Homo sapiens: one gene and its partners. The protein of the gene in region 4 interacts with the protein of the main gene of each other region in a pairwise test. Each region holds a gene or a part of one and is shown on either strand. Other genes may lie near its edges.

Region 1 (3,500 bases), on a different chromosome or scaffold from region 4:
TTTAAATGATGAATATATTTGAGAAGCATCACCTCTTTATTTCCCAAGTAGAGTTAGGTGGCTGCTGAATCATTTCTACATTTGTTTTTTTTCCCTCACGTTTGATGGCATCAAATAGTGCATTATTAAAAGACCTTCTCTTTCAATAGCTATAGGCCCTTCGGGGAGGTGAACATACAAGCACGTGATTGTGGGTATCAGCAGGATGCTCTACATATCCTCTACCCACAAGCAGATGAAAACTAGTTTTATCCGATGTAGAAAATGGCCAGAACTGTCTACACATTGCCAATATGTTTTAAGTTCAATGGTTATTTGTTGCAAAGTTTTGTTGTTTTCTCAAAGCTCAAATGAAAGCCTCCCTCCATCCTCTTGCTACCATTTTTGAAGCTTAGAAATACATACCTTCCCATTTTGTGAATCTTGGATCCTTACAAAATGGGTTGAGCTCTCTTGGTAGAAATTAAAGACTCTCATATTGCTTGTGATCTCAGCAAAGAATGGGAGCTACTCAGCTGGCAGCAGCACCTACCCTGTTCCCTGCTCAGGGGTTTTGTTAACAGTAAGGTCCCAGTTTCCTCAATGTTTTAAGGAAACATCTGAACCCAAGAATTAGCATGAACCCCTTGCTTGAAGTTGTTTGTGTGTTTGTGAGGTTGTGTATCTGCTTTGCTTTGCTTGCTGTAGTATTCTGATTAAGGGCCAATGTTTTAAGTAGCATGATGTTATATGGTTGGCAGTTCAGCCTAGTGATAGAGATAGCACATTAGAATTTACCTCCTTTTTTAAACGTTGGAAAAAAAAGAATGGGTTTATGTAACACAGCTCCTTACCTAACCAGTACTGATCCTCTATTGATGATGGTTTTCTGCTTCATTGCATGTTAAATGATGCATGCTTTTTCTCATGAAGCTGTCACAATGACGAACACTTTTATCAACCCAGATGGAGCATGCCAACATGGTAATTGTGTCAAAACCACATGCTTGTCTAATGGGCGGGCTGTTCACAGCAGTGTTCTTTTTAGTTGATGATAAGTAGAAAGATCATTACTTAATGTATTATATAACTATACTAATGATGGATTTTGGGTAATTATAATTAAATATTAGTCAATGAGCATTGCCAGAGTTTGGGAAACCTTAGTTCCAGTTTTGGCTTGCCCATCTGACTTTACCATCTCAGGCAAATCTCCTGGTCTTTCTGATCCTCAGTTTGGTTGTTGATAAAATAAAGTGAGGATATTAGACTAGATGATTGAACAATACTCATTTAGTAAGTACTTAATAGATACCTATTATGTGCCAGTCTAGATGCTGGGAACATAGCAGTATATAAAAGAGAGATCCCAGCCCTCATGGAGTTTTCATTTTAGTGGGAATGTCAGCATTCCACTACAAGAGTTCTCATTTTCATGGGTGATAGAGTTTAAAGGCTTATCCACATATGAAAGAAACTCAGGGTTATAGGCATGATAATTAGGGTGAGTGGATGTACTGTAATCATGTTTTCTTGATGGTGGTAATTTGTTCAAGAAGCCATTTTATCAACAAAGAAGGTAGTGTTTTGTTTTGAGCTCTGTTGAACTCTTGAAACTGTTTCAAGAATATGTTGAGTAATGATCCAATTAGTCTTTTCCATTGTTTTCTGTCTTGTAACTTCCATTTGGATGGGTGACACTGATCATCACTTTTGAGGCTCTTAACCCTTATGGGTGTTGTGAATACAGTGGTGATTGAGGATGACTTCGTGAGGCTTAACCATATGGTTTTGTCGGTGCTCTTCCTGTCTGTATTTGTACTTTGTCTTCAGTGTCTGTCAACCAGCTCAGTTATGATTACATGGTCAAGCAATAACGTACAAATGGGATTTTCTTTGTTATTTAAATTCATCTATAAATTTCTTACTTTTAAGAGAGAATATTTTGAATAAATCTGAGAATACATTTATGTTATTTCATAGTCATTTTCACTAACTGGCAGGAACCTTCTTTGAGTACTAGGCCAAGGACTCTGTGGTTGAGTAGGTCATTCGTGCATAATGGAGCTGTGATTGCATTATGAAGTGTGTGTGAGGGAAGGTATACACAGCTGTGTGGTTCTCCATTAGTGGCTTTGGATAAGTGACTACTGTTTATTATTTGTAAAACAGGGATAATACATACTTTGTAGAATATTTTGAGAAACAGATTATGGGCACTGTGTCAGACAGTAAACAGTGAGTGGAAACCCTTATGATTAAAATATAAACAACTATTAATGCTTTTAACATAATAGTGGAAACTCAAGTTTTATATTTCACTGCTTCTAAAATATTTTGGCCAAAAATCAGCCTTAGTTGATTGGTTCCCAGACTATTTCTCACAGCCAAAGTAATTAGAGAGCTGCCAATTTATCTTGGTTAGCTTAGACAAGTATGGGGCATTTTGGTTTTAATTTTACCAGGACATTTATTCAGCTCTCAGAATGTAATTAGAGAGCATATACTAGAAATACACTTTGGTTATTTCATGATTAAAGTAAATAATATTGTCCACTTAAATAGTACATGGGAAATGGTATGTTAAAGAAGGAAAAAAGGTTTTCTGTGCAATATGGAGCCAGTTTACCTGTCCTCGGGTCTTGCTGGAAGACATACTTTTGAATTTCAGATGCCTGAGAATGAGAAGCAGCAAAGAATATGTGGGTATAATAGTTAACTATTCCCTCTTACGTAGCATTGCTGTCAGGGATATTACTGTCTCCTGATCTCCCTGCCTCACTACATATTTCTTCTGGCCCTCATGCCTTTTCTTCTGCCTCACCTTATATGTTGATGGTGATAAGAGCTCTTTTAAGGATCCTCTCAGTTTAAGCTACCCTTTTTCTCTAGGTGATGTATCCCCATGTGATGACAACATCCAAACCCTATCTCTAGTGTGTATCTAGTCTCCAATCAAAACCTGTGTGTCTTGGGGTCATCTAGACATCTCCACAACCTCTCAATCACAATGAATTCAAAATTGAATTATATGTGTCAGCCAGACCCACTTTTACAGGTGTTCCCCATTTCCATGAATGGTTCTACCATCACCCTAGTCTTCCTTGACCTGGGCCTTTTCCTTAGCTCTTTCCTCTCTTTGACTTTCTATATTCAGCCCGGACATCAAGTCATATCCACTCTACCTCTTTACCATTAGATTAATTTCTTGTTCTTTACCCTACTGTTTCTGCTGTAGTATATATAGACCATCGTCTTCTCAGGTCTGGATCAACCAGAGATCAGATCAACCCAATCTCCTGGATGTCTTTCTGCTTCAGTCTTTTCTTTCATCCTGTGCTTTACAGCCAGGTTGCGCTAAGTGAAATGAGAATCTTATTACATTTCTCCTCTACTTCAAGTACTTATGTAACTTCTCATTGCTTTTCAAATAACCCCCACATTGCCTTTAAAATAACACAAAATCTTTTATGTTTTGGCTTCTGCCTTCCTTTCTTACTTCATTATTACCAGTTCAGCTT
Region 2 (3,500 bases), on a different chromosome or scaffold from region 4:
AGAGATGGGGTTTCAACATGTTGGCCAGGCTAGTCTCAAACTCCTGGCCTCAAGTGATCTGCCTGCCTTGGCCTCCCAAAGTACTGGGATTGCAGATCTGAGCTACTGCACCCAACCATAATGCCTTGTTCCTAATTTAGAGTTAATTCATCGGTGTGGAAAGCTCAAATATGTTTTTCTTCTTTTTTATACAACATGTTTCCATAGCCTTTTATTTTGGAAAATTTCAAACATCTAGAAAAGTTGAAAGACCACTGCAGTTATTACTGATATACCCACCACCTAGATTGAGCAGTTAATATTTTGCTGTATTTACTTTGTCAGTGTATGTATGTGTATATATATCTTTTACATGTATATCCTTATCTTTACTTCTATATGTGTATAATTTGCTGAACCATTTCACTGAAAATAATATGCAGGTATCTTGTTACTTCATTCCAAATATTTCAGTATGCATCAAGCAAAAATTAGGACATTCATCTGTATAACCACAGTGCTATTATTGTATCTAAAGAAATTAATGATAATTCCTTAATATTCAAGTCCATTTTGGGATTCCCCCAGTTATCCCAAAATATCTTTTAAAGGTGCTTTTTTTTTAAAGGATCCAATCAAATTAATGCATATCCAGTCAAGTTCATGTATTACGTTTGATTCTTACAACTCTTTAGCCTTTTTAATCTCTAGAAAACCCCACACTTTTTTCCTCATGACATTAACCTTTTGAAGAATGTCAAGTGTCTTTATTTTATTTTATTTTATTTTTGAGACAGGGTCTTCCTCTGTCACTTAGGTTGGAGTCCAGTGGCACCATCTTGGCTTACTGCAACCTCTGCTTGCTCTCAGCCTCCCAGGTAGCTGGGATTACAGGCATGTGCCACCACGCCTGGCTAATTTTTTTTTTTTTTTTTTTTTTTTTTTTTGTAGAGACGGGGTTTCGCCACGTTGGCCAGGCTGGGCTCGAATTCCTGGCCTCAAGTGATTCTCCCGCCTTGGCCTCCCAAAGTGCTGGGATTACAGGTGTGAGCCACCACACCCGGCCTCAAGTGTCTTAATTGGAGTTTTGTAGTTTCTCTTAATTATATTAAAGAATTCCTTGAGTGTTGTAAAATCTGTGATATACATTACTTTTAATTAAAAAAATGTTTTAGCATAGTAACTTGTAGAATTCTCATGTTTTAAGACATTAATATGCTTTTCTTGAGCTAAATTGTTCTTAATTTTTATCTCAGGAGAAAGTATCTTATGTTGGGAGAAAGTGACAGAACAGATTCAGGAAGCAAATGATAAGAACTTACAAAAACATGATGATTCCTCAGAAGTGGCTAATATTGAAGAAAGGTATTGTTCGTGTTGAAAGTGAGAAATGTGACTATTTAGTACAATAGCTAGCCTTTATTATTGAACACTTTCTTTGTTTGAAAGATCTATATTTTTCTGGTTTTTGCTTGACTATGCTTTTAAGGTTAAAGATACAACCTATTATGTACTGTCAACAACAAAAGAGGTTGAGGAGATATGTCAAGCTGCCTTGACATTGTATTCTCGAAGCTTTTTCACTTAAGAGAAACATCTGGATAAAATCAATTTTCTCTCAAATAGTTAAATCCTATTTTTGGAGAAGGGAAAAATTAAGTATTGACATCTCCCATTTGGTGTCACTTATCAATTATAATTGCATTATCAGTTTAGTTACAGAATTTTAAAATATGGCAAAGATTAAGTATTTTATATTTTAAGTAAGTTGATTATTTTAAAAATTTATTTCAAAATTTTTAATATAATATGGACAAAATGACTTTTCTGATTATTGTTCTCACATTAAGGGCCTTTCTTAATTAAAAAAATGCATATTTAGTGATCTATTTTTGAAATACATTTTAAAGTTATTTGATGAATATGTTACTCCATGTGTTAATCTGTGGTCGATAGATGGACTTCAGAAGGGTTCTTAGGACTCCAAAGTCATGTGAAGAGTGTTGTATGTTTCTTTATTTTAAGGTGTGGAGAGGGATTGTGGCTTTTGTTAGGTTCTCAAAGGGAGGCACTGATTTTGGGAAAAGTTAGTTCTCCATGTTGTCAAGGGTTTCTATACCAGGCACACTAAGTGTAAAATATTCACACATTATGATTTGCATGTTAAATAACTTTCTGTTTCTAATTAGGCCCATTAAAGCTGCTATTGGAGAAAGGAAACAGACCTTTGAAGATTACTTAGAAGAACAAATTCAGTTGGAAGAGCAAGAACTGAAGCAAAAACAGCTGAAGGTCAGCAATTGTGCTCTTCTGATTAAATCATTCTAAGGCTTTAGAGATTTATCTATAATTTGCCTTAAAAATAACTTTGAGATCACTTGGATATACCAAAATTAATTCAAATATTATTCTTTTATTTTAGGAAGCAGAAGGACCATTGCCAATCAAAGCAAAACCAAAACAACCATTTTTAAAACGAGGAGAAGGTTTAGCTAGATTTACTAATGCCAAATCTAAGTTTCAAAAAGGCAAAGAAAGTAAACTAGTGACTAACCAGAGCACTTCCGAGGACCAGCCGCTGTTTAAAATGGATAGACAGCAACTCCAGCGGAAAACCGCTCTTAAAAATAAAGAGCTGTGTGCAGACAACCCTATCCTTAAAAAGGACAGTAAAGCTAGAACCAAGAGTGGTTCTGTCACCCTCAGTCAGAAGCCGAAAATGCTGAAGTGTAGTAACAGGAAAAGTCTTTCTCCGTCAGGATTGAAAATACAGACGGGGAAGAAATGTGATGGGCAGTTTAGAGACCAGATCAAATTTGAAAACAAAGTCACATCTAATAATAAAGAAAATGTAACTGAGTGTCCAAAACCTTGCGATACTGGCTGCACAGGGTGGAATAAGACACAAGGTAAAGACAGACTTCCTCTTTCAACAGGGCCGGCCAGCCGGCTGGCTGCTAAGAGCCCCATAAGGGAGACCATGAAAGAGTCTGAATCTTCTCTTGACGTTTCTCTTCAGAAAAAGTTAGAGACTTGGGAACGAGAAAAGGAAAAGGAAAATTTGGAATTAGATGAATTTTTGTTTTTAGAACAAGCTGCTGATGAAATATCATTTTCTAGTAATTCCTCATTTGTACTGAAAATCTTAGAAAGGGATCAACAGATCTGCAAAGGTCACCGGATGTCTTCCACCCCTGTCAAAGCTGTGCCACAGAAGACAAATCCGGCAGATCCCATTAGTCATTGTAACCGCAGTGAGGATTTGGACCACACTGCACGTGAGAAGGAGAGTGAGTGTGAAGTCGCACCCAAACAACTTCATTCATTGTCCTCAGCTGATGAATTGAGGGAACAGCCTTGTAAAATCAGGAAAGCCGTCCAAAAGAGCACTTCTGAAAATCAGACTGAATGGAATGCACGTGACGATGAAGGTGTTCCAAATAGTGACAGTAGCACTGACTCTGAGGAACAGCTTGATGTTACCATAAAACCATCGACTGAGGATAGAGAGAGGGGCATCA
Region 3 (3,500 bases), on a different chromosome or scaffold from region 4:
TTTTTTAATACTGTCAGCTACAAAAGAGTTCAAGGATATATATTAGTTCATAAGATATACTAGAACCTCTTCATGACTTTGAAAACTGGGCCATTTCCTTTTCTTTTGTAATCAAGTCAAAAGAGCCCCATTGTTGAAAGTTTAACAGTCCTAGTTGGAATACCCAAACTCCCAGCCTTAGAGAGGAAGGGGTCCTCACTTGGAAAATGGGACTAACAACACTCCCATCACAGGATTCCTGGATAGTCCTGGTCACAGTCGTTCCTCTTCCCTATGTGGACTATAAATTTGCAAGGGAAAACAGAGGGCCTGTTTTGAATGCAATGAAACACAAAGATAGAAAACTAAGGGAAAAGGTCAAAAACAAGAGAATTCTTGAGGCCAAAACTAGAGGTCATCTTACCTCAATCTTCCAGCAAAGAGATAAGTAACAGGAAAAGATTATTAACAGTCGAGGAGCTTTACAGACCTAACACACTACAAAGCAATCACCTGAACGATTACGTACTCTACCAAAGCAAAGCAGAAATCCCTGTGATTGGGCAGCAGGGAAGAAACCCTGCCCTGTAAACAAAGAGGCTTCTGGCCAGGCTGGCAGAAATATTGCACGTTCATAACAAATGCTCTGTGCACTAATCCCAAACACTCTAACTCCATGACGACCCTCCGCTAACTCCCTGGAAATGTTCCTTGGAGCTGATCCTTCTCGGGTTGAAATATTCAGCTAGTGCTCATTGTAGTAATGAACATTCATTCACTAGCCCTTTTTTAAACTCATCTCTAATTATAACTCCATATGGCCTCTAAGCCCTTACTACCTGTAATTTTAAGAGCTTGAGGTAATTACTATGCAGCAAAGTTTTGTTTTTGTCGCGAGTACCACATAAACAGGAATTGGATGTGCACAGCTTCGTTTTATTCTAGAATGCCCAACGCTGAATTTTGTTTTTAATCTCTTACCCAACAACCAATTATCTACAGAAACTCAGAGGTTTGCAGAACTTGAAGAAGGGTGGAAATCACGTCTCTCTAACCTAGGATGTGGGACCCGTTCAGAGACTTTCTGCACAGCCTAATCTACCCTCTTCTTTAAGACACCTAGAAAAGCAGCAGTCCATAAATTTCCCTTGGGATCACAAGGTCGCAGTGGCCTTTAGCGGAATACTTTCTCTTTAGGTCTGAACTGATTTACTATTTTCCTCTACCTCACGTAGAGGAAAATAGTAAAATTCCTATTTACACGAGGTAGAGGAAAATAGTAAATCAGTTCAGACCTAAGGAGACTGTGATGTTAAAAAATAAACAAGGCACTGAGAACACAATTTCTTAATCAGCTCAGCTTAAGAGGAGCGAGAAACAGTAGAGAGAACTTAGCTTTGTATTCAGACAGACCAGAGTACTCTCGAACTTCAACTCTGCCATTTTATTTTTGTTGTTTGTTTTTAAGACAGGGTCTCACTCTGTGACTCAGGCTGGAGTGCAGTGGCATGATCATGGTTCACCGCAGCCTCAACCTCCTAGGCTCAAGCCATCCTCCCATCTCGACCTCCAGAGTAGCTGGGACCACAGGCACGCACCACCACACCAGGCTAATTTCTGTATTTTTTTGTAGAGGCGGTATTTCAGCATGTTGTCCAGGCTGGTATTGACCTCCTGGGCTCAAGGGATCCACCTGCCTCGGCCTCCCAAAGTGCTGGGATTACAGGCATGAGAACTTTGCCACTGTCAACTACTATGCACCTTTGCAGGATTCAGCACCTCCTTGGGCCTCAGTTTCCTCATATGTAAAATGAGGTCACTGCCACCTGCCTCTCAGGAATGTAAAGGGTTTACAGTAATGAACGAAAAGTGCTGAGCATGCTACCTGGCACTTGAAAGGCAGTCAATAAACAAATAGTAACTATTATAACCATGAGGTTATTAGCCCTATGGGTCAGCTATTTGGAAACCACCTACCCAAGGGAAAAACAGTGTGAAGTCCAGTTTTCAGCCTGCCCAAGGAAGCCTGAGCTACAGCAACCATGGTATGATGAGGAACCAATGTCTGCCCATTGGCAGGAGCCATAGATACAAACCCAACCACTTGCTCCAAAAAGTGCTGCAGCTGCGGCTTTCACACTGCACTTTGCATTCTCCTTTCAGCTCTGTTGCGGAGGTAGCCGCTACTAAGCTTACTTTACCAGTTACTAATGTGCCAAAAATGGATCCAGCCACATTCTCCATGAGCTTCCCACTCCCAGGAAGTACCCCTGTTCAGTAGACTCCAGAAGCAAAAGACACCTGCCAGAATCTGTTCTCTTCCTCCACCTCCCACCTCCCCTTTGCATGATGGATACCTGCACCCTTCTCGCTCCTGGAGTCGGACATTTCCAAAATCAGTCATTTGGGGTACGGGCCTAATAGAATAAGCTTTAATGTAAACCCAAGTAAAGCATGTCTTATGCCTCCTGTGCCAATGAATTGAGGAGGCATCTACCCAGGCGAGGCTAGCCAGGTGCCCCACAGTACCCCACGGGCCACTGTGTTCCTCTTGATTAGAAAAGTTCCTAACTTATTGCAACCCAGGGTTTACATCCCCACCTGACTCAGGCCCCTTAAGGCAGGAACCTTATCCTGTTTACCAACAACTCTGGGTAATACATAGCTTTTGCTAGTAACAGGGGCTACTAACAGCTGGGCACAGTGGCTCATGCCTGTAATCGGAGCACTTTGGGAGGCCGAGGCAGGTGGATCACCTGAGGTCAGGAGTTCGAGACCAGCCTGGCCAACATGGTGAAACCCCATCTCTACTAAAAATACAAAAATAAGCGGGGTATGGTGGCGCATGCCTGTAATTCCAGCTACTCAGGAGGCTGAGGCAGGGAGGATTGCTTTAACCCGGGAGGCGGAGGTTGCAGTGAGCTGAGATCACATCACTGCACTCCAGCCTGGGTGACAGAGCAGAGTCTCAAATAACAAAAACAAAAAGACACCTTAGTGTGAATTTAAGATGAAGCACTATCTCCCCCAAGGATATTGGCTTGAGGGATGCAGGAGGGTGCATGAGGAGAGAAGTACAGGGGGCTGCAATCGGGACACGGGGGACACCAGGCTGAAAACACTAAGCCTTCCCTCCTCGGTAAAGGTCAGTCAACCCTGGTGCTATTTCCATCCCCCACCCCATTCCCTTTTTTTTTCTTTTTTCCTTTTCCATTTTCAGGATTTTCATGTCATAACTGGTTTCTTGATAACAGCAATGTCACATGCCTGAAAAAAGTAAGCACTTGGTCATTCAGAGAAAATTACCCAATTTTTGGTTTCCCCTTGAACTTTGTTTTCCTGCTCTGATGCCAACCTCTCAGCCATGCCACCGCCCTTTAGTGCCGAGATCAGAAGATGAAAAGAAAGGAAAAGCATAAAATCAGTTGGATATTTTTAAAAGGCCAATGGCATCTCTTAGATAAATGGGTTTCACGGGGAAAGAGAGTTAGGAGGCCATTAAATTTCTTTAACTCTCCCTC
Region 4 (3,756 bases):
CCACCAGCACAGGTGTGGTAACTTCAGGTGGTCTCCCCATACCACCTGTGTCTGAATCACCAGTACTTTCCAGCGTAGTTTCAAGTATCACAATACCTGCAGTTGTCTCAATATCTACTACATCCCCGTCACTTCAAGTCCCCACATCCACATCTGAGATCGTTGTTTCTAGTACAGCACTGTATCCTTCAGTAACAGTTTCAGCAACTTCAGCCTCTGCAGGGGGCAGTACTGCTACCCCAGGTCCTAAGCCTCCAGCTGTAGTATCTCAGCAGGCAGCAGGCAGCACTACTGTGGGAGCCACATTAACATCAGTTTCTACCACCACTTCATTCCCAAGCACAGCTTCACAGCTGTGCATTCAGCTTAGCAGCAGTACTTCTACTCCTACTTTAGCTGAAACCGTGGTAGTTAGCGCACACTCACTAGATAAGACATCTCATAGCAGTACAACTGGATTGGCTTTCTCCCTCTCTGCACCATCTTCCTCTTCCTCTCCTGGAGCAGGAGTGTCTAGTTATATTTCTCAGCCTGGTGGGCTGCATCCTTTGGTCATTCCATCAGTGATAGCTTCTACTCCTATTCTTCCCCAAGCAGCAGGACCTACTTCTACACCTTTATTACCCCAAGTACCTAGTATCCCACCCTTGGTACAGCCTGTTGCCAATGTGCCTGCTGTACAGCAGACACTAATTCATAGTCAGCCTCAACCAGCTTTGCTTCCCAACCAGCCCCATACTCATTGTCCTGAAGTAGATTCTGATACACAACCCAAAGCTCCTGGAATTGATGACATAAAGACTCTAGAAGAAAAGCTGCGGTCTCTGTTCAGTGAACACAGCTCATCTGGAGCTCAGCATGCCTCTGTCTCACTGGAGACCTCACTAGTCATAGAGAGCACTGTCACACCAGGCATCCCAACTACTGCTGTTGCACCAAGCAAACTCCTGACTTCTACCACAAGTACTTGCTTACCACCAACCAATTTACCACTAGGAACAGTTGCTTTGCCAGTTACACCAGTGGTCACACCTGGGCAAGTTTCTACCCCAGTCAGCACTACTACATCAGGAGTGAAACCTGGAACTGCTCCCTCCAAGCCACCTCTAACTAAGGCTCCGGTAAAATTATTGTTATAAAATAATTAGATAAATATGATCAGTTTTTTTTCTCCCTAATGAGTACATTTTTCACTTCAGCCTTGTAAGTTAGAAACATATTTATAAAGGTACCTGGCTTATAGTATTTATTAAATTGACAGCAGTTTGAGGGTATATCTACAATGAACATGAGATTTTTTTTTCAAGTGTGGCAGGATTTTAGGGTTAATTATGCTGCACAGTTTTCCAAGATGGTATAATTATCGGGTAAAATACAGGTATTTCTTCTGAATTGGTACAAACTGAAGAAGTCTGTATCCCAAAAGGGAGCTAAATGCATCTGTCAGCAAAATGTACGTAAATAATAGCAGTTCATAGTCTTTGTTTCAGTGAGAATGAAGCAAATTTTTGGTTTTGTTGTAGATTCCACAGTTGTACAGTTTGGGGGTTATAAAAAATTGGAAGTTAGTAAGGAAATTGATACAGAGGAGAAATAAATAATCTAATCCTAGGACTGAAGTAACTAAAATTTATTATCTAATTATGCTGTGGTGGATTTCCTCTTGTTCTGCCACCTTCTCCAAATAACAAGGCTGTGTTACGTCTACTGTATTGTATGCTTCAGCCTCTTTCTGCATTGCCATTGATGTGAGGTTCTTTTTATAGTAGGATAATGCAGAATCTTCACTCAGATAAAATAGAAATTCTTGATAATAGTATTAGATTTCTGATGCCTTTTGTTATCAGACCTGCCCATTGGTTATTTCTTAACCAGTTACTGTTTTCTTTTCTCAGAAAATCTTGTTTTACATGGCGAAAGTCTGATACATACTGTACCAAATAAGTAGCTCAAGAATATCTGGACACTGCCACTTATGTACATATAGCCTTTGTTCTGTTCTCCCTAGGGGACAACTTTTTACTGTATTTTACTATTCATTTTATAGGTATATCGTAGTAACCCCTATAATAACAACATTAGTTGTCACACCGTTTTTTTAAGACAGATACCAGAGAGTAACCTCAGTGATAAACATGTCTTAACTATATATATTTTATTCTTATGTTTGTGCATTCAAATTAGTTGATTTGCTCTTCAGTACGCAGTCTTTATATTTAGCGTCTCACGGACTTGATTTTCCCTTTGTTGTCTGTAGGTGCTGCCAGTGGGTACTGAACTTCCAGCAGGTACTCTACCCAGCGAGCAGCTGCCACCTTTTCCAGGACCTTCTCTAACCCAGGTGCCTCAAGACTTGACAAATTTCTTCCTGTGCCCTACTTTCTTTGACAAAGCTTGCTGAAGTTCTCCACTACGTGGTCTTGGCTTTTGCCTATTTGTCTTTGACTTAGTAACACCTTTCTTTTAAAATGTTATAACCAATGACCCAGTTCCTACTTAAGTAAGAAGCTTCATAGCTCTTTTGTTTGTAATGTTGCTTCCGGTTATCCAAAAACACTTGATACTAATTTTTTTTTTATATCTTATGAAGGAAGAAAACAGCAAAGCAAACATTTTGTCAGACCCATATAGCTCCCTTTATCACTCACACTTCTGTAGAATAGCGAAATTGCGTATATAATCAAAATTAACTTTGAGAGTGCCCTAGAAAGGAGAAGCACAATATGGCAACTGAGAAACTTTTTCCGCGAGTCCAGAGCAACCAGTCTCTTCTTGAATGTTGATCATTTCTTTCACTAGCCACCTAATGAAGGAATTAGCTTACTTATAGGTAGGTATAGGGGTGATGTTTCATGAAAACTATGTGTGCTGTCTCTTTTAAAATAAAAGCCACCGAGCTCAGTGAGATGCTAACATTATGAGATCACTCATGGAGGAACTGAGACCAGCCTCATGAACTTGAGATTCCCATCTCACACAGTTCTGCTCACTTGAGTGCAGTGGTGGACAGAATTACCTGTAATATTTATTATTTCTCTTTCCCACCGCAGTCCACCGCCAACACATTTGTTGAATTTCCATAAGAAAAGTACTAATTGTGAATCTGTTGTGACCAGGAAAAATCTTCTGACATGAGACAAGCCAGTAAACTTTTAAACTAAATTAGGAATTTATTTTTGAATCATATATAAGAAATAAGAAAAACATGGTAAATTGCTTACTTGAGAAGCTGAGTTGGAATTTATCCCTATTTCTTTGGTCCCAATGTACAGGGGAACACTATTTGAGGAACTTGCCACAATGAAGTAAAAACCCCAACAGAGAAAGCACTCCATCAGCCACCACATTTGGGGGAAAGTGCATTGTGAAAGTCCGTAAATCAGGAGTTAGAAAATTAGTTTTAAACTTATTTTCTCATTTAAAAACATGGATTCAGATTTCTAAGGGAGTATAAAGTGTGACAAAAAATAGCAAGTGAGACATGTGGAGGGGTAAGGGTAAATAGCTAGTGCCTAGATAGAGGGAAAGGCCTAAGCAAAGACTGTGCAAGAATAGATTGATAGAAGCCAAGACAGATGTAGGATTAGACTGTGGAAGGGTAGAAGGAAGCTGTGTGCTTGCGGTGGATGGAATGGTTAACAGGATGGAATACCCAGACCTCCTTGCCACCATCTGTAGGGAAGAAGTATACATGTAAGAAAGAGGAAAATAATACCCTGTGATAGTGACAGAATATGTTAATGCCATCTTTTATTC

Evidence for each region. The genes of interacting proteins can lie anywhere in the genome.
Region 1: the proteins of WNK1 (region 4) and EPB41L2 interact in a two-hybrid assay, tested with the Homo sapiens proteins (one large-scale study listed by IntAct).
Region 2: the proteins of WNK1 (region 4) and CPAP interact in a two-hybrid assay, tested with the Homo sapiens proteins (one large-scale study listed by IntAct).
Region 3: the proteins of WNK1 (region 4) and CGNL1 interact in a two-hybrid assay, tested with the Homo sapiens proteins (one large-scale study listed by IntAct).

Annotation. Positions count from the first base shown.
Region 1 is NC_000006.12:130,958,746-130,962,245, reverse strand, and holds part of EPB41L2 (band 4.1-like protein 2), read left to right. Parts: intron 1-3,500. UniProt on the Homo sapiens protein: Required for dynein-dynactin complex and NUMA1 recruitment at the mitotic cell cortex during anaphase.
Region 2 is NC_000013.11:24,905,862-24,909,361, reverse strand, and holds part of CPAP (centrosomal P4.1-associated protein), read left to right. Parts: intron 1-1,235; coding exon 1,236-1,344; intron 1,345-2,168; coding exon 2,169-2,271; intron 2,272-2,401; coding exon 2,402-3,500. UniProt on the Homo sapiens protein: Plays an important role in cell division and centrosome function by participating in centriole duplication. Inhibits microtubule nucleation from the centrosome. Involved in the regulation of slow processive growth of centriolar microtubules.
Region 3 is NC_000015.10:57,379,505-57,383,004, reverse strand, and holds part of CGNL1 (cingulin-like protein 1), read right to left. Parts: intron 1-3,500. UniProt on the Homo sapiens protein: May be involved in anchoring the apical junctional complex, especially tight junctions, to actin-based cytoskeletons.
Region 4 is NC_000012.12:884,964-888,719, forward strand, and holds part of WNK1 (serine/threonine-protein kinase WNK1), read left to right. Parts: coding exon 1-1,121; intron 1,122-2,257; coding exon 2,258-2,341; intron 2,342-3,756. UniProt on the Homo sapiens protein: Serine/threonine-protein kinase component of the WNK1-SPAK/OSR1 kinase cascade, which acts as a key regulator of blood pressure and regulatory volume increase by promoting ion influx.